Regions from separate parts of the Homo sapiens genome. Here region 2 is linked to region 1. The links come from fine-mapping of genetic effects on gene expression. A gene starts in region 1. The other region holds a variant in brackets. All regions are shown on one strand. Distances are from middle to middle.

Region 1 (2,918 bases):
TGGACTAAGTGTTCATAATTATGTCACTCACCGCGAAGTTGGAGAAAGTTAGGTTTGTGACTTTGGGAAAGCGAGAAGGACAGGACGGAGTCGTCGGGTTTTGTTACTCTTTAACTCTCCGCCACGGCTTTCTAATGGGAACGAAGTGGTTATCACCAGGGCTGGGACGCTGGCGCCTCAGGCCCCAGTTCCTTTTCTACCCCTCGCCCTCCCAAGAGTCTGAGGAGATGTATTTGACATTCAGAGATGTCGCAGCACCCTGCCCGGTACCGGTCAGCCCAGCCCGGGTCGCGTTACAGTTTCATCAGCTATTAGAAAAGACCCACAAACTGGCTGAAAAGTTCTCAAACTTACTAGACCTGGCTTCCCCCCACACAAAGATTTTCTTGTGATCATAAACATTAGAGTGACCCCCCCCCAAAGAAAAAAAAGATTGTTAAGGGACACAGATCAAGGGGAAGGCAAGGTTCTGCTTTTTCTGAGCAGAAAGATCAGATATGCAGGTGCAGCATTCATTTTAAGTGACTGGAGCAGGTTGTATCAGTTTATTAATTGGTCTCGTTGAACTGAAGTACTTTCCAGGATTTCAGAAAGTGCAGTTTCAGCTTGTTGGTACCGAGAATTGAAATTTGCATTGACTGTGGCAGTGTAAGAAATTTTTCTGAGAAGGTAGTTGTAGATAAGTAATTACATAAGAGTGAAATAATAAGGTGAACCAGTCTGAAGTAATAGTTCTGAACAAGTCTGCCAACATTTGAGACATGTATACCATTATCTCAGCAGAAAAAAATAAAAAAGTGCGGTAATAATGTTGAAATGGGACTGGAGATGTCAAATGGGTTGGTTTAAAAATATCCCTAAACTGCTTTAGAAACTAAACGTTGGAGTTGAATAAAAGTGAATCTGGATTTCCTGAATAGCACCGTGGCTTGAGTGTGCTGTCAGTATGTAAGCCAGTCCACCAACTTAAGACAGAAGTGTTGCTATTCCATAAATACAGTAGAACTCCATATGCTGAGTTTTTCAATTTCTTCTGTTAGAAAGTTTGGAAAAAAAGGAAGACTTTGAAGTATTTTGTTTATACTAACAGAAGAGAAAAGTTCTCCTAAGAAAAAGCTGGTGGCAGGAGTGTAGAGGAGTAGCATATGGCATTAAAAGGAGCACAGCTGGAGGTAGCATTTCCATCTGAACATGATGTCAGAGCAGCTGACAGCCTGCCATCCCTCAGCCTTTTATTCTAACACACAGACAGGGAGTTAGTGTGTGCGGATCTGTGGTGGAGAAGGTATCTCATTCCTCTCTAACATCATCTCCACTTTGCATCTGTCTCTCTTAGTCTGCTTTTTTTCCACCGATGTAACAGACCTGGAGCCAGCAGGACTCAGAGGAAAGGACTTAATCAGGTTTATGTGTCCTAAAGGTAGGAGTAGCAAGAGATTAGATTGAGCATATTTCTGTTTTGGTGTTTTGTTTATTTAATTTTAAAAATCACATTACTTTTCTAACCCAGTTTAGGAATAATATATGAAATTGAGTATTAAATGAACATCTTACTGGAGTTGAAAGTCTTGAGCTTGTTTAGTTTTAATTTTTTATCCCTTTTACTTGAGCGAGTAAATAACTTTAATACACAAATATTTCAAGTTTTGAAATGTTAAGAAAGGCTTTAAAATGCTGCTTTTGGAAATCACGTTGGATTAAAATGCTTTTTTGTTGTTCACTGCTATTTAGATTTGATTGGGGTGGTGGTGGTGGGGAAATAGTAAACTGGAATCCAGCATTCAAACTTATATGAGAAGATTATTCTAGTTAAGCAGCTAGATTGTTGTATAATTAATTCCTCTGTGAAACTTTATTCTTCAAAACATTGAGCAGCACTACTGAAACATACAGCTGTAGTGCTGTTGAAACTGCAGGTTTTTAAGAAGAAGAAAAAAAAACCAAACTTTTGTCCCCAGGAGAATAGTTTGACTGGTTTCCTCATTTCTCTTTCAAATATATATTTAAGAGATCTTTTATTTCAGCATAACAATAATTATTTGCAGGAGTTTTTGTGTTAGCGACTAATTTAGAACTTGTAGATTTGAGCTGCCTGAATTGGCCAGACAGCTGTAATCGCACTCCTCTATTCTTAATCTCTTTATCTGGGCAGCAGCTGCCATATGGCCACAGTCAGCTGGATCAGATGTTTATAAGCTTCCTTCTTCGTCCCTCTCTGTCCTCTCAGCCTCCTAATTTGATCACGGCTACCTTGTGAGCTGCCCTCCAATCTTTATTTTTAGCCTTCTCAAGGATTAGGATTGATGTTAGCTGTGGGGCACTTAAAGTGATTGTATTGTAAATCTTAGTTTATTCTAGCAGTGGCATCTTGCAGAATGTGTCTGGGGTTAGGATAAAGTTTTAGTCTGTCTTGGGCAAAGTGTAGAAGAACAAGAAGAAAGGAAGTAATTTCTGAATATTAAATTAAGTGTATCTATTCCCAAAATGCACTTGCTGAGATGGGTGGTGTGGAGGCTTGCTTCTGGTCACAGGAAAGGGGAAGTCGGGTCTTCTTTATTTTTCAGGAGTTTACCCACTGCAGTTGAATTCTGACCCTTTGTACATCTTTGCCTTTCTCCTCCCTCCATTTCACTTTCCCTCATCACAAAACAAGGGCAATGATGAATATTTGCAAGAATAGAAGCTAGTGGGAAAACAGAAATATATCAAATTATATTGAAACAAAGTATTTTCTGTTGGCTGAGGTAAGGCAGAACCAGGAAAAAAAAAAAGGTTCTCTTTTTCTAAAAAGGCTTAAAAAAAAACGTTGAACCTGTAAAGCTTTTGAGTTTTATTTAAGCGCTGTATGCCTTTATTTTTAAAAGTTTGAATTAATTTCAATATGAAACTCATTTTGCCTTGCAACGGATCAAAGTTTA
Region 2 (2,918 bases), 180 kb after region 1:
CCTTTTCACTTTGAAAAAAAATTACATGGAAACTATGTCTGTTTGCCCCATCGTCCCCCTTCCTGCACGTCATCACCACCGTCAGCCCTGTTGCCACAAAAGGTGGCACTTTCTTGGTCCTGTACAGAATGTAATTTTCACTTGCCCCTGGAAAATCAATATGGAAAGGCTCTAATTCCCCAGATCTCGATTTTTCAATAAAAAAGTGAAAATGAAACTCTGCGGGATTGCAGCCAAAATGGTGCCCTGAGCCAACCGCAGTCTGGAGGGAGACTCAGAGTTTCAGAGAAAACACCAACTTTTGACATTGTTCTGCTCAGATGACCCATCAGATGGGAGCAGAAGCCAGTGTCTAGGGGTCTATGACATAGACCGGGGTCTATGAGACTCGGCAGTGCTCCTTCCAGAAAGGCTTCTCACTCCAGAGGGATTCGGGGCAAAACTCTGCCTGTCCCGAGGTGCTACTGAGGGCCGGGATAGTAACAGGGAAAAGCTTAACTTTGGACCCAAAACATCCATGAGTTAAAATTCTGTCTCCATCATATTATAATGGCTACTTTCTGCTTAGCAGCTCTGATGATCTGATTTCGTCAACCCAAAGGAGGAGGAGGAAGAGGAGGAGAGAAGCTGAAGTTGTTGATTGAGCTCTCAGCGTTGACATGAGGAGTCCATGAAACAATCTACAGGAAGGCACCCCAAACGAAGCCTGGCTGGGAGTAGACATTCAATAGGGTGCATTTCCTTCCTGCCGCCACCCCCTCTGTCCCTAGAATTGAGGTTGAACAACTGATACCCTTCAGTACCTAGTGTTGTCAGTGGAGGGCCACAGTGAACTATTCAGTCCCCTACCCTAGGGCCTCCTAATCCCCCCACGATGGTGACAGACATAATGAAAGTGCCGTCGCCTATCTGCAGACTCTGTGACCAGACACCCTCCAAAGCAAAATCACCAAGGGCTCTTCTACAGCTCTTTCTGTGGCTGTTTTAACACTGACACCTGAGAAAGAAGAGCAGCCCCCAGCTTGAGACCTCATCCTGTAACAGGAGCTGGGCTTCCTGGCTGCTGCTGCTGCTGCTGCGTGCCCCAGGACAGCTCAGCCCGAGCCAAGCGCAGTGCCTGCCATTAGAGTGCGAGTCCCAGGACGCTTGGCTGCTGCCACCTGATCCTGGGTGGGTCACGTAGCTTCTGGGTGCTTCAGCGTCCTCAGCTGTCGAACAGGTTAATAATAGTGAGGCATGCTCTGACCCAGCGCAGTGGGGTTTAGCCAAGAGAAGCCTCCCTGACAAGTTCAA[T/C]GATGGGAAAAAAAGAGACGACATTTTAAAGAACAAAACCACATAGCATTGAAGTTTGTTATTTCATGCTTATGTTCCTCTTGTGCCCCAAAGCAAAGGAAAGGGAATATTTAAGGTCCCCGAGATAACACACACCCACTTCTCCAGGTTTCCTGGTGTCTCTCTGTTGAATACGGCTCAGTCTTATGAGTTGCTTTCTTGCCAACCCCAGTAGCTTCCAAACCTGTGACCTGGAGGCTGTGCAGTGAGGGAGGAGGCAGGAGAGGGAAGGAATGGAGTGGAGGCTGGCTGTTGCAGGCAACCGCACAGGGTTTTAATGACTGCCCCGCCACCTCCACTTCCAGGTTCACCAAGACTCTATGCAATGGGAGAGGGGTAATTCCTCAGGAATTGTTATCATCAGAAAATGAAGGGATGGATTCTAGAGGGGTGCAAATAATTGATGCCAAGTACGATATAAAAGCATTGCTGAATTTTTTTAGGAAAACAAAAATAAGCAAACAAGTCTGCCTCCCCACACATGAATAGAACCAATTTGATTGACATGAAGAACTGGGGCCTTGAAGACAGTGTTTTCTGGCTAGGCATGGAGACAGGGACCATTGGCCACTAGTGCTTTGGGATTTCCTGAGTGGGAATGCCAGAGATTACTAAAGATTCAGCTGAGACAAGAGCCTCCTAAGCCACACCCATGGAGTTGCTCATCCAACCTTATCTAACAGCAAGAAGTTGGAAACAACCTAAATATCTATCAATAGAAAACTGACTAGGTCACACATACAATGCCATACTACTGTTCCATTAAAGGCTATTAAAAATGGGCTGGGCACGGTGACTCACGCCTGTAATCCCTGCACTTTGGGAGGCCAAGGCCAGTGGGTCACCTGAGGTCAGGAGTTCGAGACCAGCCTGGCCAACACGGCAAAACCTTCTCTCTATTTAAAAAAAAAAAAAAGCTACTAAAGAGAAAAAAAGAAAAAATAAAGATTCACACATAGAAAGATGCCCCCATAATATAGTATCAAGCAAAGAAATCAGTTTATATAAATTGTATGATATTATCCCATGTAGGTGAAAGGGAATCCACACATCTACGTTGCGTATATATTGAGAGGTATCCTGAAAGATGTTTGCAAAAATGTTACTGCAGCTTCTTCACGGGATAAGATCTTGACTGATCATTTTTCTTTCTTCCTTGTTCTCTTCTGCATTACTTGACTGTTCCTTTCCTTACAAAGAGCACTTACTTTTTTAAAAAAAGCACTATTAAAAATCCATCTCTGTAAGAAGTAACTTTCATCTTTTTATCTTGGTGGAAGTTTGTGATTGAATAGTGAGAAGGGCATTGAACATCTTCTTGATCTTCCAAGATATACTCTGATTAATAGAGAATAAAGCCCTCTCTGATTTCCTAATATCACATAAAATACCAAGGAGAAGGAAAGTAAGGTAGGAGGTCATCGAAAGTATTTCCTTTGACTCTGAGAAATCCTCTGTCCCAACTCTCTTGCAAAGAAAACTAAACTAGCACATACCGTATAAGGTCTGTTTTTCCATAGCCATGTCCTCCCCCTTTTCCTTTAGCACTTTTGTTCAAACATGTATTGAACCGGTGGGATATGCAA

Direction of the effects. Positions count from the first base shown, and alleles are read on the strand shown. Sizes are in standard deviations (SD) of each study's normalised expression.
With allele C in place of T in region 2, the expression in skeletal muscle of the gene that starts at base 1,259 in region 1 is lower (small effect, 0.12 SD a copy in GTEx).

What was found. PIP is the estimated chance that this variant, and not a neighbour inherited with it, causes the effect.
Region 2: its variant is the best candidate, but not a certain one, in a credible set for the expression of ZBTB18 in skeletal muscle (GTEx, PIP 0.63).

The regions. Positions count from the first base shown.
Region 1 is chr1:244,050,025-244,052,942 of GRCh38, forward strand. ZBTB18 (zinc finger and BTB domain containing 18) reads left to right here and starts at 1,259. Exons shown (of 2, transcript NM_205768.3): 1 at 1,259-1,420. The coding sequence starts at 1,408. RefSeq lists enhancers at 268-317, 2,034-2,535 and a silencer at 498-587.
Region 2 is chr1:244,233,366-244,236,283 of GRCh38, forward strand. All of the region lies in intron 2 of LOC105373262 (a long non-coding RNA gene), which reads right to left. Among named protein-coding and RNA genes, the nearest start is that of SPMIP3, 120 kb to the right of the region's middle. The variant T/C (reference allele first, on the strand shown) is at 1,294.